3 separate regions of the Homo sapiens genome follow, and all the other regions are linked to region 2. The links come from fine-mapping of genetic effects on gene expression. A gene starts in region 2. Each other region holds a variant in brackets. All regions are shown on one strand. Distances are from middle to middle. Region 1 overlaps ACAP2 (ArfGAP with coiled-coil, ankyrin repeat and PH domains 2). Region 2 holds the start of ACAP2 (ArfGAP with coiled-coil, ankyrin repeat and PH domains 2). Region 3 overlaps ACAP2 (ArfGAP with coiled-coil, ankyrin repeat and PH domains 2).

Region 1 (10,608 bases), 86 kb after region 2:
GGAATTTATCCATTTATTCTAGGTTTTCTAATTTATTGGTGCATAGTTGTTCATAGTAGCCTGTAATGATCCTTAGAATTTCTGCAGTATGGGTTATAATGTCTCCTTTTTCATCTCTGATTTTTTTATTTGGTCTTCTCTTTTCTTAGTCTGGCTAAAGGTTTGTCAGTTTTTTAATCTTTTTGAAAAACCAACTTTTTGTTTCGTTGATTTTTGTATTGTTTTCTTCTTTTTAATTTCATTTATTTCTGCTCTGGTCTTTATTTATTTTCTTCTGCTAACTTTAGGTTTAGGTTTGGTTTCCTTTTGCTTTTCTAGTTCTTTAAGATGCATCATTAGGTTGTTTATTTGAAGGTATTTTGTTTTTGATGTAGGCACTCTTAGCTATAAACTTTCCTCTTAATACTGCTTTTACTATATCCCATACATAGGCTTCGGTTTGTTGTGTTTCCATTATCATTTGCTTCAATAAATTTTTTAGTTTCTTTTCTTTTTTTTTTTGAGACAGAGTCTTGCTCTGTCACCCAGACTGGATTGCAGTGGCACAATCTCTGCTCACTGCAACCTCTGCCTCCTGGGTTCAAGTGATTTTCATGCCTCAGCCTCCTGAGTAGCTGAGATTACAGGTGCATGCCATTACACCTGGCTAATTTTTGTATTGTTTAGTAGAGACAGGGTTTCACCATGTTGGCCAGGCTGGTCTCAAACTCCTGGCCTCAAGTGATCTGCCTGTCTTGGCCTTTCAAAATGTGGGGATTATAGGCCTGAGCCACTGTGCCCAGCCCAGTTTCTTTCCTAATCTATTCATTCACCCACTGGTCATTCAGGAGCATATTGTTTAATTTCCATGTGTTTATATAGTTTCCAAAATTCCTCATTATTTCCAGTTTTATTCCATTGTGGTCGGAGAAGATCCTTGATATTATTTCAGGTTTTTTTTTTTTTTTTTTTTGAGTTTCTTACCACTTGTTTTGTGACCTAGCAATATGGTCTGTCCTTAAGAATGATTCATGTGCTGGGAAGAAAAATGTGTGTTCTACACCCCCTCAATGAAATGTTCTTAAATATTCATTAGGCCTGTTTGGTCTATAGTACAGATTTTTTTTTTCTTTTCTTTTTCCTTTTTTTTTTATTTTTTTGAGATGGAGTCTCACTCTGTCGCCCAAGCTGGAGTGAGTGCAGTGGCACGATCCCAACTCACTGCAACCTCTGCCTCCTGGGTTCAAGTGATTCTCCTGCCTTGGCTTCCCAAACTGCTGGAATTACAGGCACGTGCCACCACACCCAGCTAGCTTTGTATTTTTAGTAGAAATGGGGTTTCACCATGTTGGCCAGGCTGGTCTCGAACTCCTGACCTCAGGTGATCGCCCGCCTTGGCCTCCCAAAGTACTGGGATTACAGGCATGAGCCACTGCACCTGGCCTGTAGTGCAGATTAAGTCTGATGTTTCCTTGTGGATTTTCTGTCTGGATGATCTGTCCAGTGCTGAAAGTGGGGTTTTGAAGTCTCCAGCTGTTATTATATTGGGGTCTGTCTCTCCCTTTAGCTTTAATGATATTTGCTTTATATATCTTGGTGCTCCAGTGTTTGGTACATATATAATTATACTTGTTATGTTCTTTTGCTGAATTGAACCCTTTATCATTATAATGACCTTCTTTGTCTCTTAAAAATTTTTTTTTCTTGAAGTCTGTTTTGTGTGATATAAATATAGCTGTTTCTGTTCCTTTTGGTTTCCATTTGCATGTAATATCTTTTTCCATTCCTTTATTTTCAGTTTTTGTCTTTATAGGTGAGATGTGTCTCTTGTAAGCAACAGATTATTGCGTCTTGTTTCTTTATCCATTCAGCCACTCTTTGTCTTTTGACTGGAGAGTGTAGTCCATTTACATTCAATGTTATGGATGAGTAAGGATTTACACCTGCCATGTTGTTATTTGTTTTCTGGTTGTTTTGTGGTCTTCTCTTCCATAGTGTCTTCCTTTTAATGAAGGTGATTTTCTCTGGTGTTATGTTTTCTTTTCTTGCTTTTTATTTTTTGCTTATTTATTATATGTTTGTAGATTGGAGGTTACCATGAGGCTTGCAAATAGTATCTTACGGTAGCAAATCAACACTGATTGCATAAACAAGCCAACAAAAAGAAAACTAATAAAAACACAGTACTTTAGGCCAGGCGCGATGGCTCACGCCTGTAATCCCAGCACTTTGGGAGGCTGGGGCGGGCGGATCATGAGGGCAGGAGATCGAGACCATCCTGGCTAACACGGTGAAGCCCCGTCTCTACTAAAAATACAAAAAATTAGCCGGGCGTGGTGGCGGGCGCCTGTAGTCCCAGCTACTTGGGAGGCTGAGGCAGGAGAATGGCGTGAACCCCGGAGGCAGAGCTTGCAGTGAGCAGAGATCACGCCACTGCACTCCAGCCTGGGTGACAGAGCGAGACTCTGTCTCAAAACAAACAAACAAACAAAAACTCAATACTTTAACACTGTGTCCTCACTTTGTAACTTTTTACTGTTTCCCTGTGTATATTATTGTATTGTCTCTGTTGAAAAGGTATACTCATTATTTTTGGTTTATCTTTTCACCTTTCTATTAATACTTAAGATAGGAGTAGTTTACACAGCACAATTACAGTGTTATAGTATTCCGTGTTTGTCTTTGTACTACTTACTGTCACCAGTGAGCCTTGCACCTGCAGATGATTTCTTCTTGCTCATTAATCTCCTTTTCTTTCCGAGTGAAGAACCTCCCTGTAGCATTTCTTGTAGGACAGGTCTGGTGTTGATGAAATTCATCAACTTTTGTTTGTCTGGGAAAATCTTTAATTATCCTTCATGTTTGAAGGATATTTTTGCTTCATATGCTATTCTAGAGTAAAAAAGTTTTTTGCCAGCACTTTAAATATGTCATGCTACTCTCTCTCCTGGCCTGTAAGGTTTCCATTGAAAAGTTTACTGCTAGATGTTTTGGAGCTCCATTGTATTGTTTCTTTTCTTGTGCTGCTTTTAGAATCCTTTCTTTATCCTTGATCTTTGGGAATTTGATTATTAAACTAATAATGGGTTAAATCTACTTGGTATTCTATAACCTTCTTTTACTTGAAGTTTTGTATCTTTCTCTCAGTTTCAGAAATTTTCTGTTACTATCCTTTCGAATAAACTTTCTATTTCTCTCTTTCTACCTTACTCTTAGATTTGCTATTGAGGCCGTTTTCTAGATCTTACAGGGATGCTTCATTCTTTTTTATTCTTTTTTCTTCTCTGTTTTTAAACAGGGCTCATAAGTCTCAGGAATTCTTTCTTCTGCTTGATCAGTTCTGCTGTTAAGAGACTCTGATACGTTCTTTAAATATCAAGTGCATTTTTCAACTCTAGAATTTCTGCTTGGTTTTTAAAAATTATTTCTTTGTTAAATTCATCTGATAGGATTCTGAATTTCTTCTCTGTTATCTTGTATTTCTTTGAGTTTCCTCAGAGCAGCTATTTTGAATTCTGTGTCTGAAAGGTCACATATCTCCATTGCTCCGATTTGCCCCTGGTGCCTTATTTAGTTCTTTTGATGAGGTTATGTTTTCTTCAATGGTCTTGATGCTAGTGGATATTTGTGATTATCTAGGCATTGAAGAATTAGATATTTATTGTAGGCTTCACAGTCTGGGCTTGTTTGTACTCATCCTTCTTGAGAAGGCTATCCAAGTATTCAAACCTACTTAGTTGTTATTATCTAGGTTTTTGGTCCCTACAGCTGTATCTGCATTAGAGGGCACCCCAAGACTAGTAATGCTGTAGTTCTTGGACACTTATAGAGATACCAGCTTGGTGGTTGATATGGTTAGGCTTTGTGTCCCCACCCAAATCTCATCTTGAATTGTAATCCCCATAATCCCCACGTGTCAAGGGAGAGACCAGGTGGAGCTAAATGGATCATGGGAGTGGTTTCCCCCATGCTGTTCTGGTGATAGTGATTGCATTACATGAGATCTGATGGTTTTGTAAGTGTTTGGTAATTCCTCCTGCGTTCATTCTCCCCTCTGCTGCCTTGTGAAAAAGATGCCTTGCTTTCCCTTTGCCTTCTGCCATCATTGTAAGTTTCCTGAGGCCTCCCCAGCCATGCAGAACTGTGAGTCAATTAAACCTCTTTCCTTTCTAGATTACCCAGTCTCAGGCAGTTCTTTATAGCAGTGTGAGAATGGACTAATACTGTGGTCTTGGATAACATCTGGAAGAATTCTCTGGATTACCAGGTAGAGACTCTTGTTTTCTTCCCTTACTTTCTCCAAAATGAGTGCAGTCTCTCTCTCTCTCTGGCTAAGCTGCCTGCAGCTTGGAGAGGGGTGATACAAGCACTCCTGTCGCCGCCATCGTTGGGACTGTACTTCGTCAGATCTGAAGCCAGCAAAGCACCGTGTCTTGCCCATGTCCTGCTGTAACTATTACCTGGCTGCAAGCTGTGTTCTCTTAAGGCACTCAGGCTATAGTCATTATTTCAAGAGTGGCTGAAGCTAGTCATTCTTGTGTATTTCCCTTCGGGGTGGTGAATTCCTCTGGGCTCCAGGCTCCGGACAGGTTCAGAGTGCCTGGAAGTCAGGGCCTGCAATCGGAAACCTTAGAAATTTCCCTGGCACTGTATTCAACTATGTTTAAGCTGGTACTGAAATCAAAAGACACAGTCCTTCCCACCCATCCCTTTCCTCTCCCCAGGCAGTGGAGTCACCCCCTGTGTCCACCTCCACACAGGCCCACAGGGAGTACTGCCACAATGTTGTCACTGTTCACTTAAGGCCCAAGGGCTCAGCTTTTCATGAATGTCGCCATTCCTGGGACCCACCCTTCAGGGCAGTGAGTTCCCTTCTGGCTTAGGGTAGTTCCAGAGGTGCCGTCCAGTGTTCTCTGGAATCAGGGACCCTACGAACCCACTTGGTGCTCCTCCCAACTATGTTTGAGGTGGTACCTAATCTGCAAGACAAAATCCCCTTTATTTTTCCCTCCCCTTTTCTCAAGCAGAAGGAGTCTTTCCTCGTAGCCACCGCAGCTGTGAATATGCCGGGTCACACCTGAAGTCTGCATGTCTGAGTCTTAGCTGAGGCCCACAGTGTGTGTTACTTGGTTGCTGCTGGTGATTATTCAGGGTCTAAGGGCTCTTTAGTCAGCAAGTGGTGAATTCTTCCTGGACTTGATCCTTCCCTTCAGGTTCCTTCTGGCCCAGGGTGTGTCTAAAAATATCACCCGGGAGTTAGAGCCTAGAATGGGGACCTCACGACTCTGCCTGATGCCTTATTCAACTGTGGCTGAGATGGTATTTATGTTGCAAAACAAAGTCCTGTTTATCCTTTCCTCTCCTCTTCTCAAGGAGAAGGACGGAATCTCTTTTGGAGCTGGGAGCCTTCCTGCCTTTGATTGGGAGATGTGTGACACAAGCGCTCCCTTAGCCGCATTGGCTGGTGTCTCACTAGGTCATGTACCTCCAAGTCCACTGGCTCTGAGCCCAGCCCAGCACTACAACTTGCCTAGGAGTTACAGTCCTTGTGACCTAGCCTGCCTTTTACTGTTATTTAGGACCCCAGAGCACTTTAGCCTGTGGTGGCGAGGCTTGCAGAAACTCCAGTTCCAACCTCCAGGCTGTGTGATTGTCCTGTCCCTGGGGCTGGTCTAAATGCTCCATTCATTGGCATTGGCTGAGTTCTGCCGGGATTGGCAGCACTGCGTTCCGGCTTGTAGTCCCACAGTTGCTGTGCTCTTTCCCCGTGTGCAGCGCAGATTCTTCCTCTGTGCCCTGTGGTTGCTAC[G/C]AGCGCATGGGGGAGGGCTGGGGTCAGCAATTCAAGACTGTCTTTTCTATCCTCTTCACTGCCTCTTTCAGCAATATGAAGGTACTGTGATTGCTCACATGATTTTTGGTTCTTATGAAGGTGCTTTTTGTGTAGGTGGTTGTCAGATTTGGTGTTCCTGCAGGGAGGACAATCGGTGGAGGCTTCTATTTGGCCATATTGCTCTGCCTCCCATTCCAGCTTGTTTCTATTTTTAATTTTTGTTGCAATGGAGTCTTTTGCCTGGCCCTGAATAATATTTAAATAAATCACAAGGACTTGAAACTACAAAATGTATACTTAGAGCCAAAGTCACCTTACTTGTAAGAACTGGAAATGGGGATAATGCTCTCTATGGTTATGCAGCCTACTCTTTTACTAACCTTTCTGGACTAGATCTTTGAAGTGCGTCTTAGCTTTCCTCCTTTCCTGAAGAGAGCAGAGATAGTGCTGCTTTAACTGTGGTCATACATGTATGAGGAATAACTTTAGTGTGAGCTGTTGGTTTTAAAGAGTCATATATTATTCTATGCACTTTTGTAAGTTCATTTTATAATGAGCAGATTGGTCAACTGACATTTTTGATTATTTGTAATACATGTGTTGCTTGGAATAATACTGTTAATTTCCAGAAATATAAGTGAACCTTAGCTTTTCTGTTGGTGGCTTTTAAACTTTTTATGATGGGAAAATGTGTGAATTTTCTCCTGGGAAAGTATAGACTGGAGACTTAGATACCAGTAGATGAATTGAGGAATTTCTGTGTAGCAGTTTAATATAGAAAAGAGTTAGCTGTCCATGAGGAAGGGCTTTAAGAACAACAATAACTACCAAAAAAAAAAAAAAAAAGAAGAAAAAGAAAAGAATTAGCTGTTAGATAGCTGTGGCTTGAGAATTGGCAAGTCAGAGACAGAACTGTTGCTTTATTGACAACATACTTTTCACACTAATGGAAGTATTAAAAGTATATAGCCTACATTATTGTGGCTGGGCACAGTGGCTCACACCTGTAATCCCAGCACTTTGGGAGGCTGAGGTCAGGAGTTCGAGATCAGGCTGTCCAACATGGCGAAACCCCGTCTCTGGTAAAAATACAAAAATCAACTGAGCATGGTGGCACATGCCTGTAGTCCCAGCTACTCAGAGGGCTAAGGCGCAAGAATTGCTCGAACCTGGGAAGTACAGGTAACAGTGAGCTGAGATCATGCCATTGCACTCCAGCCTGCGTGATGGAGTGAGACTCTTGTCTCCAAAACAAAGCCAGTAAATAGTCTAGATTACTGACATCTAATTTCATGAAATACTTGACATTCTATTCAAGTGTATAGAAAATTTAATTTTGGTAATGTTACATTTTAAAGGCAGTAGTATCCAGGATATATGTATGGGCCAAGAGTTCACGATGAAGTTGCTAAGAGCAACTGCAACAAAAGCAAAAATTGACAAATGGGATCTAATTAAAGAGTTTCTGCACAATCAAAGAAACTGTCAGCAGAGTAAACAGACAACCTATAGAACGGGAGAAAATATTTGCAAACTATTCATCTGATAATGCTCTTATATCCAGAATTTATAAGGAACTTAAATTATAAAGAAAAACACAACCCCATTAAAAAGCAGGCAAAGGACATGAACAGACATTTCTCAAAAGAAGACATACATGTGGCTAACACTCATATAAAAAAAGCTCAACATCACTGATCATTGGAGAAGTGCAAATCAAAACCACAATGAGATATACCATCTCACATCAGCTGGGTGAGATACCATTGCTGGGTATATAACCATAGGAATATAGTTCTATTATAAAGACATATGTATGTGTATGTTCATTGCAGCACTATTCACAACAGCAAAGACGTGGAATCAACCTAAATGCCCATCAGTGGTAGACTGGATAAAGAAAATGCATACGTACATATACACTATGGAATACTATGCAGCCATAAAAAAGAATGAGATCATGTCCTTTGCAGGAACATGGATGGAGCTGGAGGCCATTATCCTTAGCAGACTAACACAGGAACAGAAAACCAAATACCACATGTTCTCATTTATAAGTGGGGGAGCTAAATGATGAGAACACATGGACACATACAGGGGAACCACACATACTGTGGCTTATTGGAGTGGGAGGGTAGGAGGAGGGAGAGGATCAGAAAAAATAACTAATGGATAGTAGGTGTAATACCTGGGTGATGAAATAATCTGTATAACAAATCCCTGTGACACCCGTTTACCTATGTAACAAACCTCCACATCCTGCACATGCACCCCTGAACCTAAAAGTTAAAAAAAAGTTGAAAAGCAGAAAAGAGAAAAATGTTCTGCTTTTCTCTTTGGAATATAATGATGTTTTTTTAACAACTTTATTAAGGAATAATTGACATAAACTGCATAGTTACAGCATACAATTTGATAACTTTTGAGATCCACACATCTCCATGAAATCGCTACAAATAATTTAGTGAATATAACAATCATGCTTTAAAAGTTTTTCTTTGCCACTTTGTAATTTCTGTTTCTCTCCCTTCTTCCCTCATTCCTAGTCTGTCGTGAATCTGCTATCATTATTGGTTTGTTTGCATTTTCTAGAATTGTATGTAAATGGACTTTTGTAGTCTAGTTTCTTCAGTGTTATTTTGAGGTCCAATTATATTGCATGTTTCAGTCCTTCATTCCCTTTTTATTGCTCAATACGATTGCATTGTATGGATTTATCACAAGTTTTAAAATCCATCTACCTGTGGATGGTTATATTAGCTATCTACTGCTGTATAACAGATTATTTGAAAACTTAGTGGCATGAAACAACATGCATGTATTATCTTACAGTTTCTGGGCCAGGAATTTGGGAGTGGCTTAGTTGGGTGACTCTGACTCAGGAATTTCATGAGATTGCCTCAGTCTCTGGTCCTCTGACCAAGGATCCTCTTTGCAGGGATGCTTGAGTGTCCTTATGACATGAAATCTGGTTACTGCTAAAACAAGTGATCCAAGAGCAGCATGGGCAAACAGGAAGCTCCAATGCCTTTTTTTTTTTTTTTTTTAAAGACAGAGTCTCACTCTGTCATCCAGGCTGGAGTGAATGGCATGACCTTGGCTCATTGCAACTTCCGCCTCCCAGGTTGAAGCGATTCTTGTGCCTCAGCCTCCTGAGTAGCTAGGATTACAGATGTGCGCCACCACACCCAGCTAATTTTGGTATTTTTAGTAGAGTTGGGGTTTCACCATGTTGGCCAGGCTGGTCTGGAACTCCTGACCTCAAGTGATCTGCCCGCCTCAGCCTCCCAAAGTGCTGAGACACTGCATCTGGCTGGAAGCTTCAATGCCTTTTATAACCTGGTCTCAGCAGTCACACATTGTTACTTTCTTCATGATACTGTTTGCTAGAAGTAAGTCACTCCATCTAGCCCACACTCAAAGAGCAAAGAATTGGGGCTGCTTTTGAAGAAAGCAGTGTTAAAGAATTTGTTGTCATATTTTAAAGCTACCGCAATGGACTTTGGGGTTGTTTTTAGGTTTTGGCTATTACAAATAAAAATGCTTATTAAAATACATGTAAAAATCTGTGTAGGCATATAGTTTTATTTCTTTATGTGAATAGCCAGGTGTAAAACGGCTAGTTTGTAAGATAGTGTTATGCTTAAATGTTTACTATTTTTAAAGTGAAGACTGTAAGCCATTGCTAAGAGAAAATAAGGAAATATTTAATTTCTTTTATTTATTGTTTATATTAATTTTTAATACAGTCACGCATCATTTAACAACAGTGAAACATTCTGAGAAATGTGTTGTTAGGTGATTTCTTCATTGTGTGAGTATCATAGAATGTACTTATCACAAACCTAGGCAGTGTAGCCTCCTACACACCTAGGCTACGTGGTGTAGTCTATTGCTTTTACGCTGCAAACCTATACAGCATGTTTCTGTAATGAATACGTTAGGCATTTGTAACATAATGGTAGATATTTGTGTATTTAAACATAGAAAAAGTACAGTACAGATACAGTACTATAATTTTATGGGACCACCGTTATATGTGCGGCCTGTCTTTGACCAAAATGTCATTATGCGGCACATGACTGTTTTACATTTCTTTAAAGTGTTAATATCTGTAAAGAAATTAAAACCTACACAAATGTTGTTTTGCAAAGTGGATTGTGCTATTTTACATCAGCAGTGTACAAGAGTGCAGGGGTTCCACATGCTCAGCAACACTTGGCATAGTCACTTTCTAAAATTGTTTATGGTTTTAATTTGCATTTCCTTATTAATAAGTAATGATGTTGAGCATTTTGTTTCTTTGCCATCTATGGATCTTCTTTGGTGAAGTGTCATCTTTTGTTCATTAAAAAAATGGATTTAGGCCGGGCATGGTGGCTCACGCCTGTAATCCCAGCACTTTGGGAGGCCGATGCGGGCGGATCACGGATCAGGAGATCCAGACCATCCTGCCTAACACAGTGAAACCCTTTGTCTACTAAAAATACAAAAAATTAGCTGGGCGTGGTGGTGGGGGGCGCCTGTGGTCCCAACTGCTGGGGAGGCTGAAGCAGGAGAATGGCGTGATCCCGGGAGGTGGAGCTTGCAGTGAGCTGACATCACGCCACTGCACTCCAGGGTGACAGAGCAAGACTCCGTCACACACACACACACACACACACACACACACACACACACACACACGAAAAAGAAAAAATATGGATTTATTGGCCTGGCGTGGTGACTCACGCCTGTAATCCCAGCCCTTTGGAAGGCTGAGGCGGGCGGATCACTTGAGGTCAGGAGTTCATGACCAT
Region 2 (10,608 bases):
TGCAACCCCCACCTCCCAGGTTCAAGCGATTCTCCTGCCTCAGCCTCCCAAGTACCTGGGATTAAAGACATGCGCCACCACACCTGGCTAATTTTGTATTTTTAGTAGAGACAGGGTTTCACCATGTTGGTCAGGCTGGTCTTAAACTCCTGGCCTCAGGTGATCCACCCGCCTTGGCCTCCCAAAGTGCTGAGATTACAGGCGTGAGCAACCGCATCTGGCCTTTTTTTTTTTTTTTTTTTGAGATGGAGTTTCCCTCTTGTCATCCAGGCTGGAGTGCAATAGCATGATCTCAGCTCACTGCAACCTCCGCCTCCCTGGTTCAAGCAATTCTCCTGCCTCAGCCCTCCCAAGTAGCTGGGATTACAGGCACAGTGCCACCACACCTGGCTAATTTTTGTAGTTTTAGTAGAGATGGGGTTTCACCATGTTGGCCAGACTGGTTTTGAACTCCTGACCACAAGTGATCTGCCCGCCTTGGCCTCCCAAAATGCTAGGATTACAGGCGTGAGCCACCGTGCCCAGCCTCTCAGAGCCTATTATAAGGTCTGGCCAGAATAAATGCTCAATGAATATTATTGAATGAAAGAAAAATGAGTGAATGTTGATGTCACCTTAGTTGATGGTGGAAGTTGGGATGAAGGACTGTGAGTCAGGAGCCGAAGTCCTGGATGAACGTGAGTGTTTACTAGCTGTGTTTTATGGGGCCGAGCTATCAACATTTTCTTACAGGGAAATTGCCTTGACTACTAGTCAGCCATCATGCAGCCCCCATCCCTGCAGAAATGATTAGGTTGAGTGATTCCATCCCTCTCTTGGCTTGCCAGGGACCCACTACCTGTGTGGACTGATATGAAAAGATGAGCTGGGCTAATGTAATTGTCTCCTGGGATCTGTGAGTTGGGAAACAGATTTAAGCAATTAACACCAGGAGCCGAAGTTGAAAGGCTGTATAAAGAATTGTCAGCCAGGCGCAGTGGCTCATGCCTGTAATTCCAGCACTTTGGGAGGCCGAGGTGGGCGGATCTCTTGAGGTCAGGAGTTTGAGACCAGCTTGGCCAACATGGCTAAACCCTGTCTCTACTAAAAATACAAAAATTAACCGGGCATAGTGGCATGAGCTTGTAATCCCAGCTACTCAGGAGGCGGAGACAGGAGAATCTCTTGAACCCGGGAGGCGGAGGTTGCAGTGAGCTGAGATTGTGCCATTGCACTCCAGCCTGGGCAACAAGAGCGAAACTCCATCTCAGAAAAAAGGAGAAAAAAAAAAAAAGAATTGTCAAGAAATATCTAGCAGAGGTTGCAGAGTGGCCCTGAAACTTATTTTTATAACCTGTGCAATGTTCTGTAATATTTTGAAAGGCTTGTCAATATTTGAAAACAGGGAGATTTCACATGAAAATCTGGCTGTTTGGCGTCTCTCATTAAATCTGAGGTCTGGTATGGCAGGAACTGACTGGAGCTGAGAAGGACACAGGGCACATGCTTTCTGTTCGTCATAGCCTCCACCACCGCATGCTGCTCACACCTGGAAAGTTTCATTGTTTTATATTACCCACTGGGAGCCTCTAGAGGAATCAGTAGCAATGATAGATTGTATGCAAACCAGGTTCACAGGGGAACAGAACCTAGAGGAAAGCAGAAAGGAAAGTTGATGGGGTTGGGCAAGTAGGAAAGAGAGAGGATGCAGATGACAAGAGAGAAAACCAGTCCTAAGAGTTGCCTGAGTTTCTGCCCTTGTCAGTTCCAGTAGTGCCCACAGTCACCCTCATTGTAATTTCCTTTTCTTGAGATAATTTGCAACGCAATTAGCCAGGCTAAGGCAGGGAGTTACTAGAAATTGCTGGATAACAGCAACAAGGAAAGTAAGACAGTGTAAGCCTTTTGCTGACTATGTATCCTGACCAAGGAGTACCAGGGAGGAGAGATTGAACAACCTCTGCTCAAGAGGATGTATGGTCAACAATGTTCTCAGAGGAAATCAGCAGCTTTCTATGAAGAACTATGGGTGTCCAGGGTTCCAGAGGGTTTGTAGAGAGGGACTGAGAAGTTTGGGGAGAAGAAATTTGGAAGACATTTAAAGTTTGGTACTTTATATTCTTTTAGAGTGCAGACTGGGCCTAGTAAGGAACTTTTACTGTGTGTTGAATAGAGAGGTTTGTATTTCGGCCAAGAAAGCTTCCTGAGGGGGTGGCATAAGAGTGGTGTTTTAAAGAGAAGATGAAAGGGAGATTGCTACACGGGCAGACAGAGTTACAACTGCAAAGGCAGAATTCTTAAGGGGAGGGAGGACAGTTAGTAGTTCGGATCTGGCATCAGGCAGCCTGTGTTTGGCCTGAGTCACCTGGTAATTTATTTTCATATGTTGGGACCTTGGTTTCCATTATTATATAAAAATACAAAAATTAGCCAGGTGTGGTGGTGCATGCTTGTAATCCCAACTACTCGGGAGGCTGAGACAGGAGAATCACTTGAACCTGGGAGGCAGAGGTTGCAGTGAGCCAAGATTGTGCCACTGCACTCCAGCCTGGGTGGTAGAGCAAAACTTCTTCTCAAAAAAAAAAAAAAAGATGAGGATAATAATATTGTATTTCTTTTATTCTAAGACCCACTGCTCCCACCCCATCCCACTTTAATGTTTCTTTATTTAGGACCTATCTTAGAATTGACACCCCCAAATGCTTGCTTTATCACAGGGCAAGGAAGAAAAATTGTGACAGTGTTATCACTAACTGGGTATATGCAAATTTAGCCATCCACAGAAAGATGTTCACTTGGTAATTAGCTTAGTTATTTGCCTTTGTGGTGCCATGCAGTTGAATATTAATTTGAACCCCAAAGTGTCACTTTAGGTATCTTCTAAAAGGCTACACTGTGATTAAGTATTAAAATAATAAGTTATTGTATATGCAGATTAGCTGTCACACATCAGGAACGCAACCAAATATAGTAGAGATTGCCAACTGTCTTGGTAAATTTGACATTGAAGTTACAATGTTAGGGAAGGTTGGCCTGACCACTAATGTGCTTGAGGACCCTGAACATTTAACAGTCAATAGTCTGTTTTTAGCTATCAAGAAAAGCTGTGTGGTTTCCAGGAATACACAATTAAAAAAGAAATCAAGTTTATAAGCAAAGAATAAATGAATATAATGCTTCTATATTCTCTGAAATGCCTCAGAATTATACTGTTAATTTTCCTTTTTCCTTTTTTTTTCTTTTGATACAGTGTTTTGCTCTGTCTACCCAGGCTGGAGTGCAGTGGCACAATCATGGCTCACTGCAGTCTTGACTTCCTAGGCTTAAGTGACCCTTCCACCTCAGCCTCATGAGTAACTGGGACTATAGGCATGTGCCTGGCTAATTTTTTGTATATTTTTGTAGAGTTGTAGAGACAGGATTTCACCATGTTGCCCAGGCTGGTCTGGAACTCCTGGAGCAAGGAATCTGCTCACCTCGGCCTCCCAAAGTGCTGGGATTACAGGTGTGAGCCACCATGCCCTGTCTATACTGTTAATTTCTAAAGATGCTAAAGAGATCAAGATATCTCTTGATGGGTTACGAAAAACAGTATGTCATCACGCTATACTTAGCCAGACGGTCAGAAAGTTATATTAAGACTTTAGAAGGCTGGGTGTGTGGCTCACACCTGTAATCTCAGCATTTTGGGAGGCTGAGACAGAAGGATCACTTGAGGCCATGAGTTTGAGACCAGCCTGGGGAACGGAACGAAATTGTTTGATTGTTTTTGAGACAAACAAAAACTTCAGACAGTGAAAGTGAGAGAACTTAGACTTAAGCCCTTTGATTATAGTACTGAAGAGGCAAATGGTACAATTAAAATAGCCAACATTTACTGAATGATCGATATGTGGCACTGTGTTAACCGGACAACTTCATCAGATCTGTGTGTTATGTTCATTTTAAAGTGAGAAAGCTGGGACCTAAATCCAGGAAGTTTGCCTCCAGATTCTCACTCAGAGCCACTATGCTGTTAGAACACCCTGTATATTCATTTTTATAGATACGCCCGTGTTTTTTAGGTTGGCTTAAAAATTACTCATTACATATAAGACATCTTTGTACTTTTTACAATCAATGGCATCTTAAAATGAAGGAGTATGGTAAATACCTGCCGTGAGGATCAGATGATAAGTATCTTAAAGTGCTTCTAGAAAAAGTGTGGATTAGAGGGGCAGGTGTTGCAAGGTGAGTACGATGAGCCTGGTCTTCAGAACCCCACCATGGCAGAACAGTGAAAACCACCAGGAGCAAAGTGTCAGTGAGGGGGAATGCTTTCGGCAGTTTTGAGAGGAGTTCCTCCACACGAAGCACCCTACCTCCCATACCTGCCTAAATCTTTCTATGTCCAACCCAAACGGCAGCTCCTTCAGGAAGTGGTCTCTGGCTATATGAGAAGATGTACATGGGAGCAATTTCCAGATTATGAAGCTATGGAACAAATACATGAAAGATGGATTTTATCACTAAAGTTATCCTCGCTCCTCTTCTGGCCTCAGTTTCTCTAAACTGAAAGGAATAGGTGGCTTAGCCTATCTCTTCCTTTTATAATTTCTGCCTCTAACCTCTTCAGATTTCTGCCAATCTGCTTTGAAAAGCAAATTTCCTTCCTCAGACCTGCAGGAGACTGCTCCTCTGGGCTGGCAGCTCAGCAGGGCGGGGCTCGGGGAGCAGGAGAAGAGGCGGGGGCTCGGAGGGAAGCGCGGCCGCAGCCACGTGACTTCCTTCCCAAGGAACCTCAGCTGCCGGCCTCCCAGCAACCGGTGCGTCCCGCCTAGCGACGCCCGCGCATCCCGGTTGGCCCTCGGGGGCGGTTGTGGCAAGGAGGTGCCCACGGTCGCGCTGCTCATTGGCTCGGGTTGCCGTCGCTCAGACCCGTTGCCCGGGCGCCCGCAGGCGGTGCTGCCGGATGCCCCGCCCCTTGGCCGCCAGGTTCGTGGCTGGCTGGCCGCTGCTGTCACTCCCCGGCCGTTTCCCTGCGGCCAGCGCTCTACTTGGGGCGGGAGGAAGAGGGGCGGGACTGGGGCCTGACTAGTCGTCGCCGTCTTCGCGGCTGCTATGACCAGCGGGCGAGGCGCCCTTCGCAGCTCCGCGCAACGCTAGTCGCGGCCGTGCGCCCGCCGTAGCCGTCTGCGTCCCAGCGCGGCCGCTCCCGCGGCCCCCTCGGCTTTGCCAGCGCCGCCTGCGAGGCGGAGGCAGGATGAAGATGACTGTGGATTTCGAGGAGTGTCTGAAGGACTCGCCCCGCTTCAGGTAACCGGCACGGCCGCCCGGCGTCACCGCGGAGCTGCCTTCCCGGCGCTGGGGGCGTGAAAGCCGGGCCCGCGCACCCGGAGGAGGCCCCGCCGTCCGCTCCTTCCGACGGGGCGAGCGGCTGTTGCCGCCGTTTCCCACCCTGCGAGGGCACTGCAGTCCCCACCGAGCCCTCCCGAGGGGCGACGAAGTGGCGGGGACGGGGACGTCGCCTCTCATTTCTTTCCTTGCCCTCTGCCGGGGCGGAGCGCCCCGAAGGCCGGCGCACCCTCTCCCGCTGGGGGAAATGGGGTGCAGCCGCGCTCCCGAAGTCCCGTCCCCTTCGCGGGCGCTCGCTCTCGCCCCCTTCCTCCTCTGGCTGCTCTTCCTTCCCCCTTCCTTCCGCCCCTTCTTGGTTTCCACCCCCTCCCCACCCCCTCTTTGAGGGAGCTTTCAGGGCATCCTCTTGCAGTTCATTTAGTTCCTCTTTGCGCTTTTCTGCCCCCCTTCCCCGGGGAGGAGAGAGTAGGGGGCGAACTGGGACGCCGACTTCTGCTTCGCGGTGCCCCCGGCCAGAGCGACTCTCCGGAGGGCGCCCGCGGTGGATGCGTGCGGGAATCGCGGGGGGAAGCGCTGTGATCAACCGCATTCCGTGGACCCTAGTTGGTGACTACCTGCTTTTCTTTCCACTTAAGCTCGTTGAAGGGGGCACAGCTGTCGAGAGGTACCGGGCTGAGGGCGGAGGACTAGCAGAAAAGTGCATTTCTGTTTTGAGAACGGAAGTAGGAGGGCCGTGAAGATTGCCTGTGTGTTCCTCTTCCAGCAGCCTCTGCCCAGGAGGGCCCGGATCACAGTCGGATGCTCCCAGTGGATCTGTCACAGAGTTGACATGGGGGCACTCCGATTCACATGGGTTGCCCTTCTTTCTATGTGAGAGGCGGTCGTCCTGAGGCCGTCCAGGACACAGGTTCTTTCTGTTTTGAGGATAGTAGGAAAGTCTTGAGTTGTTTTGGACAATGGAGTTTTTCTAGGTTGCGTTTTACAGTGTATTTATTTACAGGGCTGGTCATAGTCCTTACAAATATAAGGCCTTAACACTTCCGTTAGATAGTGACATTTCTTGAAGCTTCCTCTGAGCACTGGCGTGTGTGTGCCCGCTAATGTCTGGGCCAAGCCTGGATTGTAAATTGCATCCTCTGCCTGGGAACTAACTGTTCTCATCCTTAACACTGTTAATTGGATTTCTTATTCTCCTTTCAGCGAAAAAGAAAAGAATTGTAAAACTAAGGAACTGCTACTTAGAGAAAATTTAAGAACGCTTTTTGCGTTTGCCCTTTGATGATTTTTGGGTATTAATTTTATTGGAGCCTAGGGCTATTATTTAAAAAAACCCACTTCCTTTGATAGCTGTTGTTGCGATTCATTTTTGAAACTTTTATGTTCTGCATTATTGAAGGACTCAAGAGACACAAATAGATTTCCTAGGACAGGCGTGCAGGTTGGTTTCCAGGACAGCATGGCAAGTGGAGTAATTTTTAAAGTGCACCTTAGAAAGTTCAGCTTTTTGTGAAATTTTGTTACTATGACTCAGCTATTTATTTTTAAGTGAAATAATCACAGCATTTTTCCCTTAGAAGATGTAGCTTTGAACTCCCTTTGTTTCACATTAATTTTTTTTTTTTTTTAAGTTGAGAGAAGTGATTTGGAAATACTTCTAGCTACTGGGGTTGGTCACAAACCATGTGATGTCTTTGTTTTTGAAATAAAGAAATCATTGAATATAAAATAAGAGGGCAACATACTGATTAAGTTGTAGGGAATATTATAGTGAACTTTTGTTAAACTTGATTGTAACATAAATTCTATGTTAATTAAAATATTACAGGTTTTCAGGAGTTGTTTCCCATATTCCAATTATTGTTAGCTGCAAATTGGGAAGAGATGCCAAAATTTCAATAACTTCAACATCTTATATACATTTTGGGGACAAATTAGATTTGCAATAGAGGGAAGACTGCCGAGAAATAGAAGTTTCATTATTCATATTCTTAATTTTTTATAGTTTTTCCATAATCCTATTACTATGAGGATCTGTATAGCATTTGAAAAGAATATTTGAGAAGTCTTCATTCACATGTTGTATGTATAAGAAGAGCTTTACTTTTGAGAGTATTGTGTATGTTGAGTGATAGTGAAACTTGTATCAAAATAAAAAGCTTGTGAGGCCTGGGCTTGTTTTTTGGTAGTAAGGCAGCTGCACTTGTGTCCTGATCTATTGGGCTGTCTTTAAATTAATACGTGTCTTTATTCATAAATGAATCTTGTGGCATTTAAGTCTAGTGTGTGCACATAACTGTCTTGGTGCTGTAGAATTAATGCAAAAGGCACATCTTGCTGATGAAAATTTCACCACTGTTCAAGCTTTAAACATCTATTTTCCTGTTAAATCAATGAGGAGAATACAAGGGGACTGGTTGAAATAGGGAGAAGGATGTTGCATTTGCAACATTGTCTTTTGTAATTTGAATAGTCAATGGTTACTTTTACATCCCAGTGAACATTTTTTTTTTGTTTTGGATTGGAGGGCACATTTCGTTGTATAATTTTGGGTTCCCTTTTTGGTTTTTTAAATACCAGTTTAAAATCAGCTTAAAGGTCAAAATCTTGTTCATCTAAAATCTAAAAACCTTGTTCATCTAAAAATCTACAGGAATGTAAAGTGCCTAAGTATACTTTTTTTTGAGTGGAAATTTTGCATTTTGGCCAAAATATGTTGAAGTTGGAATTTGTTTGGGCCCTTAATTGTATGTAGTTGCATGTAGTAGGTCTTTAAAATTTTACAAAACCTCCGTAAAAGTACTGCTTTTCTTTTACTTAAACATACTCTTGGGCTGAACACTGTGGCTCACATCTGTAATCCCAGCACTTTGGGAGGTGGAGGACGGCGGATCACTTAAGGTCAGGAGTTTGACACCAGCCTGGCCAACATGGTAAAACCCCATCTCTACTAAAAATACAAAAATTAGCCGGGTGTGGTAGTGTGCACCTGTAATCCCAGCTACTTGGGAGACTGAGGCATGAGAACTGCTTGAACCTGGGAGGCAGAGGCTGTAGTGAGCTGAGGTTGTGCCACTGTACTCCAGCCTGGGCAACAGAGCGAGACTGTCTCAAAAACAAAAAAAACAAAAAAAACAAAAAAACCCAAAATGTATTCTGTTTTACTTAGGAAGTGAATATCTATTTGAAATAAAAAGTAGAATAAATAAATTGAATAAATAAACATCTTTCTGAATTATGAAAGATTTTTGTCAGCAGTGTTCAAGTATAAAAATATTGTGGCCAGGTGCAGTGGTTCATGCCTGTAATCCCAGCAGTTTGGAAGGCTGAGACAAGAGGATCGCTTGAGGCCAGGAGTTTGAGACCAGCCTGGGCAACAAAGTGAGACACCGTCTCTACAAAAATAAAAAAATTAGTTGGGCATGGTGGCGTGCATCTGTGATTCCAGCTACATGGGAAGCTGAGGCAGGAGGTCAAGGCTGCAGTGAGTTATGTTCACACCTCTGCACTCCAGCCTGGGCAACAGAGCTAGACTCTCTCTCTCTCTCTTAAAAAAAAAAAAAAAAAGGCCTTAGCCTTGGTATGCTTTAGTTTTTATCTGATAATTTATTTTTATCCTTTAACAATGTCTATCATACACCATCCTGCAGGTTTTTCATTTTTAGATTCTATTTCAGATATGATTCTTTTTTTTTTTGAGATAGAGTTCTGCTCTTGTTGCCCAAGCTGGAGTGCAATGGCACGATGTCGGCTCACTGCACCCTCCGGCTCTTGGGTTCAAGCAGTTCTCCTGCCTCAGCCTCCCGAGTAACTGGGATTATAGGCGTGCACCTCCACGCCTGGCTAATTTTTTGTATTTTTAGTAGAAACGGAGTTTCACCATGTTAGCCAGGCTGGTCTCGAACTCCTGACCTCAGGTGATCCGCCCGCCTCAGCCTCCCAAAGTGCTGGGATTACAGGCATAAGCCACCATGCCCGGCTAGATACGATTCTTGTTCAGTAACTTAGAATAACTTTTTTTTTAAAAAGGGTGTTTGTGGGTGAATTATGTTTGAGAGACAGAGTCTTACTTGTTATCCAGGCTGTTCTCCAACTCCTGGACTCAGGTGATTCTCCTGCCGCAGCCTCCTGAGTAGCTGGGATTACAGGTATGAGTCACCATGCCCAGTCAGGTGAAAGGTTTTAATGGGCGAAAGACATTGGAATAAAATGTGACTACTAAATACACCTCAGTTATGTGTTGCTATTAAGTCTGGATTGGTGCCAATCTTGTCTCCTTCCTTTGCCTTCCATCTTTATAATAAACTTTTAGCAACTGCCTGTTAATACAGTGGGTAAGGGCTGAGGGGAAATTTTTTTTTTTTTTAATCTCAGAAGCAGTAGAATGGAATTATAAAGTAATTTTATTATGAACCAAAATACAGGAATCCTGACTGGGTGTGGTGGCTCAAACCTGTAATCCTAGCACTTTGGGAGGCTGAGGTGGGCAGATCAGTTGAGGTCAGGAGTTCGAAACCAGCCTGGCCAGCATGGTGAAACACCATCTCTACTAAAAATACAAAAAAATTAGGTGGGCGTGATGGTGGGCACCTGTAATCCCAGCTACTCGGGAGGCTGAGGCAGGAGAATTGCTTGAACCTGGGAGGCAGAGGTTGCAGTGAGCTGAGATTGCGCCACTGCACTCCAGCCTGGGGGACAGAGTGAGACTCCATCTCAAAAAAAAAAAAAAGAAAATTCTTGCAGGTGGGGCGCAATGGCTTACATTTGTAATCCCAGCACTTTGTGAGGTCGAGGTGGAAGGATTGCCTGAGACCAGCCTGGGCAACATAGAGACCTTGTCTCTAATTTTAATGAAAAAAAAAAAAAAAAAAAAGCATGTAAAGTAGGACTTATCCTCATTTTAAAAATGTGGGTTTTTTTTTGCTTTTTTTTTTTTTTTTTTTTGAGACAGAGTCTCACACTGTCGCCCAGGCTGGAGTGCAGTGGTGCAATCTCCACTCACTGCAACCTCCACCTCCCTGGTTCAGGTGATTCTCCTGCCTCAGCCTCCCGAGTAGCTGGGATTACAGGCGCCTGCCACCACACCTGGCTAATTTTTTATATTTTTAGTAGAGACGGGGTTTCACTATGTTGGCCAGGCTGGTCTTGAACTCCTGACCTTGTGATCCACCAGCTTCGGCCTCCCAAAATGCTGGGATTGCAGGTGTGAGCCACCTCGACCAGACTCAAAAATGTTTTAAAAAATCCGGAAAAATCTGCAACTGGACATTTTGATAGATTAATTGACTTTTTAAAAAT
Region 3 (10,608 bases), 160 kb after region 2:
TCTAGGAAACCCCACTTGTGAACTTTCTATCTGTACAACCCTAGGGACCTGGGACTCCCTGTTTCTTGCGTGGGGTGATTGAGAGCACACGTTTTCTTCAAAAGAAGGTGTGTCTCTCTTTGGCAGTCCCAGTAGCCCTTAGGAGACATGGGTGGGTGAGGGAAACAGCACACTCTTCTCTCAGTTGTTGGAAACCGGTTTGGTGGTTCCCACAGTCTCTGGCTCTGTGACTCTTCTTGATCGTTGGCAGGCTCTCAGCCAGTTGAGAATCATCACTGCTTTAGGGACCCGCTACTGGTTATGTGAGTATGTAGCAAGCACAAGTTGGGAATCGCTGATCTAAGTAATTATGAAAGTAAGCTGTTACCCACCCAGAAGGGGTAAGGTCGTGCATAGGATGACCTGGGGTGGGTCTCATGTGCTGCCGTCCCTGTGAGGTGAGGGGAGTACATTTCAAGAGCAAAATTAGCAAACTCTTGAATCATCATAACTGCTGTTGTGGTAGATATTCTGAATACCAAAAATTAAAAGTGAATTTAAACTGTCAGTGGAAACACAGCAGTCTGCATTTTAAAAACTTAGAGCTGTCCAGGCACATAGAAAAGTTAACTGTCTGAGGGGAAATAGAATGTGGTTAAGTTTAAAGAATATGCTTAGTATTATAAATGTTGAGTGATGAGTTGTTTACCATTTATAATAAACTGTTAAATGTATTTCTGGGAACATTCCATGGCAGCATATTCTGGGTTGTTGTTTATGTGTTCCAATGTAGACAAATTATATTTGCCTTGGGAAAAATTCTAAGTAATCAAAATTATATTTAAATATTAAAAAATCACATTGAAGTTCAATTTGTGTTAGCTGTATTAAATATCTTGGTCACTATTGTTCTTGTAACATTTGCTTTTGACAACACATTTTGAGATCTAAGAAAGGTAGTACATTAACAGTGCATTAATTAATGTTTTGTTAGAAACTAAATGTTAACAAAAAGTTTTGTGTGTATGTGAAGGTGGCAACTTCCTTTTGTATTATATTAACACTTTTTAAATGTATTCAGTCAGTGAAACCAATGATTATTATAGCACCAACACTTTCATTCAAGGAAGCATTTGAGTCTTATAATTTGTTTTGCATGGTACAATGGTTCTACTAAAATATACTTGTGTAATAGGTACTAGATGATTTAAAAACAAAACCGGAGAAACCATTTAAAAAGTTCCATAGCTTGTTATACAAAATATGCATTGCTAATAGTAGAAGCCATATATTGCCATTGTACTGTTGTAATACTTAACAGTGCTCATCTGGTGCTACCTGTAGACTATTTGGTATTAACGTCTGCTAGACCCTTCTTCCTATTTCTTCTTGAATGTATAATGTGTGCCTTTTAAGTTACTTCTAGTGTTGAATGGTAAAATCTTTGTGGTATTTTTGTATTATACTCTGCACTTTACACTTTCTTGGAAAGGAAAATTCCAGACTATCCAGTTTAAATAGTCTTTTAAAAATATTTATAATGTTTACAATAAATATTTTACATATTTTAATTCAACATCTGCAAATTAGAAAAAATATTTTATATGGTTTGTTGCTATTTAATGTTGCTCTATTTATTTTCTATCTTTTAGAATGGTTAAAATGAGAATAGCAATGTTTGTCTTTTGATGTGGAAGTGAACTTTTACAAAACCATGGGTATAATTGGATTGTCTTACCAGCTGTTCCAACGTATCAACCTTTTATTTTAGTCATGTCAATATGAGTTAGATGTTACTCTCAGCCACCTGTTAATAATCTCTTCTTACTGTTTTTTTCTTTTTAAAGTAGACTGATGAGGTTTAATTGATTGATTCAGGTCGGGAATAAATTTCCAGGGCTAAATGAAAACTATATAGAGATGTTAATAGTTGCTTTTTACCTAGACTAAATACAAAAAGTGACTAGAAAGTATTAGATTTTTTTTCCTTTTTTTTCTTTTTTTGAGGCGGAGTCTCGCTCTGTTGCCCAGGCTGGAGTGCAGTGGCGCGATCTTGGCTCACTGCAAGCTCTGCCTCCCGGGTTCACACCATTCTCATGCCTTGGCCTCCCGAGTAGCTGGGACTACAGGCGCCCACCACCACGCCCGGCTAATTTTTTGTATTTTTAATAGAGACGGGGTTTCACCGTGTTAGCCAGGATGGTCTCCATCTCCTGACCTCGTGATCCGCCCGTCTCGGCCTCTCAAAGTGCTGGGATTAGAGGCGTGAGCCACCCGGCCGGGCCAAAAGTATTAACATTTTTTTAATTCAAAATCTTGGCTTATGCTGTTAGACCTTTTTACTAGATCTTTACTCCTATCCTCAACTTTTTTCTAATTCTCTAGCTTTTGGTATGACATCTCTTGCTTCAAAAATCTCACTTTTTAAAAACTGACAAAACTTACTGCACTATTAACAACATCTGTAGCAATGAGTGTGTTATAAGGTGGATGCAAGGTATCTTATAGGAGATAATTTTAAAATGTTACAATAATAATCAAAAACAGTATTTTATGGTTGAAATCTTGAGAACAGAATTATGCCAAGCATTTGTATAAGGCTAATGTTTAGCAGGAAGCATTCATGATCAACGATTTATCTTGAAAATAAGATTCCTTCGTCTGAGGGATTGATCTGTATGTGTGTGTATATTTAGTTTCTCATGACAAGAAAAATGGTATTCAGTCAGCTATAATATCAGTATCTATAATCTATTTCTCGGTAAACATATTTGTACATATACACGTTTATTTTTCTAATTTAACAGATGTCCTTGGTATTTATTTGCATTTTGTCATAGCATTCTTGCTCATATGACCTGCAGTAAAACAAAAACAAACCCAACTTTTAAATGCAAAACTGATTTTAAAGCCATTTTCTTTTTTTTATTTTTTATTGAAACAGAGTCTCGCTCTGTTGCCCAGGCTGGAGTGCAGTGGTGCGATCTCAGCTCACTGCAACCTCCACCTCCCGGGTTCAAGCGATTCTCCTGCCTCAGCCTCCCGAGTAGCTGGGATTACAGGTGCCCACCACCACGCCTGGTTACTTTTTGTATTTTTAGTAGAGACAGGGTTTCATCATGTTGGCCGGGCGGTCTCAAACTCCTGACCTCAGGTGATCTGCCCGCCTCAGCCTCCCAAAGTGCTGGGGTTACAGGCATGAGCCACCACACCTGGCCTTAAAGCCATTTTCTAGGATTTTGTTGTTAATTTTTGTAGAGATGTAGTCTCGCTATGTTGCCCAGACTGGTCTTGAACTCCTGGCCTCAACCAATTCTCCCCCCAACCCCCCCACCCAGCTTCCCAAAGTGTTGGGGTTATAGGCGTGAGGCACTGCACCCAGCTAGATTTTTATTTTATGAGTTTAGGAAGCAGTGGATTAGGTGCATTAGTTTTAATTACGCATTAAAGTTTGAGTAAAAAATTACTTTTTCAAATTGCTTTTAATTAAAAGATAGTATTATTTTTCCCTATCTGATTATCAGTTTGTCTTGATTATCAGTTTGTCTTGTTAATAACTTGCATCCATCCAAAACATTAGTATTTGGTTTTAGTCATTTCTTTTGGCCTTTATCAAGGGAAATATTTATTTAAAGAAGGTCTCATTTACTCCACCTCATTTAGAATGACTTTTCCCCCCCGTGTGTTAATAAACGTATTTCTTTACATTGCTTTAAAACACTTGCATCTTTGCTCTTTTCTAACTCTGAGCTTTCTTCTGTGGCTGCATCTGAGGTGCTTTTTTCAGGTATAGTTTTTTTTTTTCTTTCATTGCATAATTTTTCAGCATTTATTTTTAGTTGCCCCTTTTCTTCCAAAAATGCTCATCTGAACAAAATTTTAATGTAATGAATTATAAAATAGTACTAGTAATAAATATGAATGTTGTTTGATTAATACTTGTGTAAATGTTTAAAGTGTCTTTATTTTATTTCATGCAGGTGATGAAACTTATCAGGACATATTTCGTGATTTTTCCCAAATGGCATCCAATAATCCAGAGAAACTAAATCGTTTCCAGCAAGATTCACAGAAATTCTGAATTTTTTTAAAAATGGGAAAATATGAAATCTGGTGACCCCCTAATGTATACAGCTAAAAAATCACAATTTTTTTACTGCTTTAATTCTACTTAATTTTGGTAGATATTGAATGGCTTGGAAAAGAGGTACCCATTCATATATTTATAAATTAAAACATAGTTATCTAGTAGTAGGAGAGGAACCTAGTTTAGGACCTCTTTTATTAAAAAAGCCTATTTAAAGGGCTATTTCTGTAGACAGAAGTTCAGTCTAGATTTAGGCCATCTCTAGGTTACAAGATGATAGGAGGTTAGACAAAAGTGATTCTTTTGCCAATGGGTGGTGGCATTGATTTTTTTCCTCCATGCATCTTGCCCAGGATCACTCAGTCAAGCATGTCTTCATCAAGTGGAAGCCAACTGTCCTGCCTGCCTCAAGAATATGTGTTTTCTTTAGCTTCCCTGAGGCTTTTTGGTGGTTCAGAAATAGGTGTGTGTGTTGATGTGTTTTTGGTAACCTAGCTTTCATACACATAATATATGATTTATTAGAACTAGAGAATGTGTTTTCCCCGTTTGTTCATAAATGCGGTCGGTTATACTTCTTAGGTGACAGGTTATTGTCCAGTACTTTAATGTATGTATGTATAATGGCTGTACAGGTAGACCATAATTCAGTCCTTTAGATTTATTTTATGCAGCAAAAAGAAGCTCTTTTTTTTTTTTAATCACAAAAAAAAACCCCAGTTCAAAATGTGTAGTTCTTCATTGTTGGGTTGATTCCCCAAAACCTTGACAGATGTATCGATGGAATAAAAGTATGTTTTAAAGGTTACTTGAATGTCACAAAATTATGCCTTCATCAAAACTTTAAAGGAAAAATCAATTTATAAAATCATGTAGGCCATTTTTATATTTGAAATTTGTCCTTTTAAAGATAGTTTTGCTGTTGCTCCTAGTGAAAGAAAAATCTCTGTACAAAGGAGAAAAAGAACCCCACTTATTCTTAGTTAATACTAAAATATATAGCAATAAATTGCTGTTTATTTTTTCTACATCTATTTTGTGTACTTGTACACAGTGTACATTCTTTTAAATTATATCGTGTATATAGCTTTAGTATTCGGTTACATGATTCACAGACCCCTGAATTCCAAAATATTATGGATAAACATTACCATTTATATGCTACAAATTAGTCTGATTCCATCTTTGAAAATGTCTTAAAGTATAAAATAATTAATTTGCTTTTTTTTTTTTTTTT[T/C]CCCGAGATGGCGTCTTGCTGTGTCACCCAGGCTGGAGTGCAGTGGCACGATCTCAGCTCACTGCAGCCTCCTCCTCTTGGGTTCAAGCAATTCTCCTGCCTCAGCCTCCCGAGTAGCTGGGACTACAGGCACCCGCCACCATTCCGAGCTAATTTCTATATTTTTAGTAAAGACGGGTTTCACCATTTTGGCCAGGTTGGTCTCGAACTCCTGACCTCAGGTGATCAGCCTGCTTTAGCCTCCCAGAGTGCTGGGATTACAGGCGTGAGCCACCGCACCCAGCCTAATTTGCCTTTTGATTCCTTCCCATTGTTGTCAACAATTAAGTCTATTCTTCTTTTAGAAATTATATGTAAATGATATTATTGATACTCTTTCTAAATAAGAGGTTTTAAAATATATAAAAACTTTATGATCCAATTATAGATAAATTTTCTAACATTTCCCAGTCACTAGGGTTTTATAAGTTGATTAAACATCAAATCAGAATCTAGCCAAGCAGGAATTATATTGAAATAAGTTCACATTACAGAAAAGGTTCCATAATTTGGCCAAACTGCATGCATGTAATGCTTATTTAGTAATGGTCACTGTATGTTAGATAAGGATAAAAATATATTTGTGAATTACTTCTGAGGAAATGCTAACTTCCACAGCATTGTATTTAATTATAACAATAACAGGAACATTAAATCTTTATCTTTGCTGTTTCACCTCAAAGTCATAGATCATCTGGCTTTTTAGGCACCTTCACTAAAGGCAAAAATCTGATTTGTAGTTTTTATTAGCATGTACCTTGAAATTATTTGACCAAGAAGCTCAAAGAAAAGAAGTACGTTAAAGAAAAAGAAAAAACCTCACTTTTCCTTTATAGTGTCCCTTCCTGTTTTAATTCCTAAAGATCCTGACTTTTATCTGAGGAAGTCTAGGTAGTTTTCCTTTTGGATCTGGCCATTGGTGCGTGTTTCATTCAGATCACCTCTGGAATCTCTGTGGTTGTGAAGGCAATTCCTTATGAGACTCTTGCCTCCTGTGGCTTACGTGATGAATTGTTAATATGGCAGTAATTAATTAGTATCTACTTAAATTTAGTGGTCAGAAATGTATTTGAAGTGCCTTAAAGATGATCATGGTTCAGAATATCTTCAGAGAAAGCAAAATCTTTAATATTGCAGGGAGCCTAGCAATACAAGTACACATTTCTGTGGCTTGATTTCTTGAATATGCTGAGACCCAATTTGGACTACATTTGGCAGAAATGATGGAGTAAACAGCAAGGCTTTAAATTAAATTAATAGTTACAAGGTAGGTTGGCTCTTAGGTGAATTTAGCCATGTCAACTAATAGCTTTTATATGGTATGTAACAAATCTGAATTATGTTATGCTGTGAATTATTCAGTGCATTATAAGAAATCTTAGTTAATCATGCTTTTGGGCTTCATTAGTCAATGTGATTGGCCTTTTATTTTCTTTCCATAACTTATCTGCTATTATTAGTTTCTTATTCCTTATTATTAATCTGTTAGCTCATTATCATTAGCTTACTAACTTGAAAGTTAGATTAATATCAAAATAAGAATAGCAGCACTATGAAGAGTTAATAAAATGCAATTTCATGTTAGAGCTAGAATAAAAGTAATTGAGCAGTCATTTGCAAATGCTTCATTATAACATTTATGTGCTTAAGATTTCTAAGGTTTTAAAAAGTTACCTTTAATACAATCCTTAGAAACTCAGAAATTTCCTGATATTCATTAGATTATGGTGTTTGCCTAATTTATACCGGTTTTCACTGTATATTTTAATGAACTTTGATTGGTTACTTTTCCAGACATACAGATTTAATTTGGAATATGAACTTTGGTTCTTCATGAGTGCATTTTGAAAAAGAAAAAAAGTACACATTCAGAATCTGGCCAATTTAAGTTTGTATTTTAAAAATATTTTATGCATGTTAAGTATGGTCGCAGTAAATGAAATTGTGTTTAAGACTAAATTTACTACCGTTTTGAACAGACATTCCCAGATCATTCTTATATTGTCAGATAACACTTGTGTATAATATCACTTTGGATCATGGACATGAGCTGGAAAAATGATGTATTTTTGTAGATTGTATGTCCAGAATGACTTTAGAACCGCATGATACGGTGGAAGGAGCACTGGACTAGTCGTCACTACCCTTTTTGGATTCAGGGCTCCTCACAATTAAAATGAGTGTAATGAAACAAGGTGAAAATATAGAAGCATCCCTTTGTATACTGTTTTGCTACTTACAGTGTACTTGGCATTGCTTTATCTCACTGGATTCTCATGGTAGGATTTCTGAGATCTTAATCTAAGCTCCAAAGTTGTCTACTTTTTTGATCCTAGGGTGCTCCTTTTGTTTTACAGAGCAGGGTCACTTGATTTGCTAGCTGGTGGCAGAATTGGCACCATTACCCAGGTCTGACTGACCACCAGTCAGAGGCACTTTATTTGTATCATGAAATGATTTGAAATCATTGTAAAGCAGCGAAGTCTGATAATGAATGCCAGCTTTCCTTGTGCTTTGATAACAAAGACTCCAAATATTCTGGAGAACCTGGATAAAAGTTTGAAGGGCTAGATTGGGATTTGAAGACAAAATTGTAGGAAATCTTACATTTTTGCAATAACAAACATTAATGAAAGCAAAACATTATAAAAGTAATTTTAATTCACCACATACTTATCAATTTCTTGATGCTTCCAAATGACATCTACAGATATGGTTTTGTGGACATCTTTTTCTGTTTACATAAATTTATCCACTTAAAATGTGATAATGTGGAGACAAAGCAAGATTTGATTACATAAACTTTTCTCTGCATTGGTCTTTTCACTATCTTATTTGCTAACTTTTCTTATTTTTCTTCAACCTCCCCACCCTCCATTTTTTGGATATTAAACAGGGAAAGCTTGCTACATTATAAAGATTGTTGGCACCATTTATTTTACACAAAGGCTAAAGGTTAACTTTTGGAAATGATGAGCTACTTTTATATATGTGTTTACTCATGCTTTGTGATATTTCTGGATCATTCCAGTCATAAAGACTTATTACATGTACTATTTCTTGCTACCTGTGAAAAGGTATATTTTAAAGAATGTATAACCAACAGTCCATTTACTTTTTATTAGTATGTAGAGGATTTGTATCTAATTCATGAATGTAGTTTTACAGTAGTTTGTCATTGTAAATGGAGCAAAGTACATTATCTTCTAAAATGTACATTATGTAAGAATTGTAAATATACTTAAGTAATTTGTATGCCAAAAAATTACAATAAGTCAATAAAGATCTCACCTCTGGCTTAGTTCTTTCATGGTGATTTACATTTTCTTGTGAAATACACTGTGAACATATCTGTCAACAGCAGTTATTTTTAAGGTACTATTATTTTTAAGGTATTTCTTCCCAGCCCTTTCAAATCCACATTCATCCTATTTGCTGATTACTTCAATCAAGAAATCCATTTGGATCTTTTAAGTATATAATTCTCTTTGTTCACAGAGCTGTTATAGCCCCTAATTCATTGGCAAAAAGATAAAAGGTTTTTTTTGGGGGGTGGGGGGAGGGGCTTGCTCTAAGTTTTTTCCATTATGATTGACATTAATGTTCCTAATCTATGCAGCACATTCCCATTTTATCCTTTTAGTAAACAGACACACACACGTTTGTCAGTGAATTGGGACTGAAGGAATGGAAGGTTGAAAAAACCAAACTGGAAGTGTATCACCTGCATTTGCTTTAAAAAAAAAAAAGCTAATTGAAAGCAGACACATAAACTTTTCAATATAACTTGCTTTATTCAGCTTCATTTCATTTTCAGAATAGTTCTGTGGAGAACCCACATCAATAGTCTATAAATATTTTAAGTGAAAACAGTTTAATTTTTCAATTATTGCAAACACAAAGCTTTTTGCTTGTGGAGAAATGTTAAGAAGAAGCAAGAGAATCATCCACAATTCCATTATCTTGTGCTGTCCAAAATGGAACTCACTAGCTACATGTGGCTACTTAATTGGAATTAGACAAAGAGTTCATTTCCTCAGTCGTACTGCTACATTTTAAGAACTTTATAGCCCCATGTGGCTAGTGACTATTGTTTTGAACAGGGGAGATTGTAGAATATATACATTGTCACAGGAAGTTCTACTGGATAGCACTGAGGGAGATACTGTTACTTTTTTGTGTATACCCTTCTAGACCTTTGGGTGTGTGTATTCATACATTTATATAATGGGATCATACAGTTACCCACTTCTTTCACTTAATAGATGGGGAGAACTTTATGGGAAATTTCAAGCATGTACAGGTAGAGAAAATCAATAGCTATAAGCTCATGGCTTATATTTGTTCTCCTACCCATTTTTCCCCTTTCCTGGACTTTTTGGAACCAGATCCTAGACCTTTCACCAGCAAATCATTCCGTATGTACATCTAAAAGTTGAGGACTTTAAAAAATCGTAACACTTCTTAAACTGTAAAACTACATAATCAATATTCAAATTGGTTTCTCAAATACGATTTTTAAAATAGATCGTGCAAATCAGAATTCACATAAGTTCCATACGTTGCAGTTGGTGAATATGTTTCTTAGTCTCTGTAGGTTTTTTTTTCCATTTGTTACCATTACTATTTTTTTTTTGGAATTGGGGTCTCGCACTGTCATCCAGGCTGGAGTCCTGTGGCGATCGTAGCTCACTGCAGCCTTGGACCCCTGAGCTCAAGTGATCCTCCCACCTCAGTCTCCCACATAGCTTGGAGTACGGGTATGAGCCACCTCACCCATTTGTTAGTTTTTTAAATTTCCACCTGCAGTTTGTTGAAAACATCACTTTTAATGACTGCATTATTTTAGCTTTAACCACTTTATTGATGACCATTTGATTCTGATTTTTTGCCATCATGAACCTAGCTTTGCTTTATTTTTATGTTTGTTTTTTGAGACAGGGTCTCGCTCTCTTTCGCCAGGCTAGAGTACAGAGGCACAATCTCGGCTCACTGCATCCTCTGCCTCCTAGGTTCAAGCGATTCTCTTGCCTCAGCCTCTCGAGTAGCTGGAATTGCAGGTGTCCGCCACCACACTGCCTACTTTTTTTTTTTTTTTGAGACAGGGTTTTGCTCTTGTCGCCCAGGCTGGAGTGCAGTGTTATGATCTCGGCTCACTGCATCCTCTGCCTCCTAGGTTCAAGCGATTCTCTTGCCTCAGCCTCTCGAGTAGCTGGAATTGCAGGTGTCCGCCACCACACTGCCTACTTTTTTTTTTTTTTTGAGA

The links.
Region 1: its variant is fine-mapped to the expression of ACAP2 in putamen (GTEx, PIP above 0.99). The same link has a PIP of 0.9 or more in amygdala, anterior cingulate cortex, caudate, cerebral cortex, hippocampus and hypothalamus.
Region 3: its variant is fine-mapped to the expression of ACAP2 in whole blood (INTERVAL, PIP above 0.99).

What each region holds. Positions count from the first base shown.
Region 1 is chr3:195,351,329-195,361,936 of GRCh38, reverse strand. All of the region lies in intron 4 of ACAP2 (ArfGAP with coiled-coil, ankyrin repeat and PH domains 2), which reads left to right. Among named protein-coding and RNA genes, the nearest start is that of XXYLT1, 85 kb to the right of the region's middle. The variant G/C (reference allele first, on the strand shown) is at 5,789.
Region 2 is chr3:195,437,461-195,448,068 of GRCh38, reverse strand. ACAP2 (ArfGAP with coiled-coil, ankyrin repeat and PH domains 2) reads left to right here and starts at 5,049. Exons shown (of 23, transcript NM_012287.6): 1 at 5,049-5,274. The coding sequence starts at 5,222. RefSeq lists silencers at 4,685-5,184, 5,305-5,524, 5,545-5,594 and enhancers at 5,006-5,505, 6,045-6,134.
Region 3 is chr3:195,272,780-195,283,387 of GRCh38, reverse strand. It overlaps ACAP2 (ArfGAP with coiled-coil, ankyrin repeat and PH domains 2), which reads left to right. Exons shown (of 23, transcript NM_012287.6): 23 at 3,960-8,643. The coding sequence ends at 4,060. Among named protein-coding and RNA genes, the nearest start is that of XXYLT1, 6.9 kb to the right of the region's middle. The variant T/C (reference allele first, on the strand shown) is at 5,304.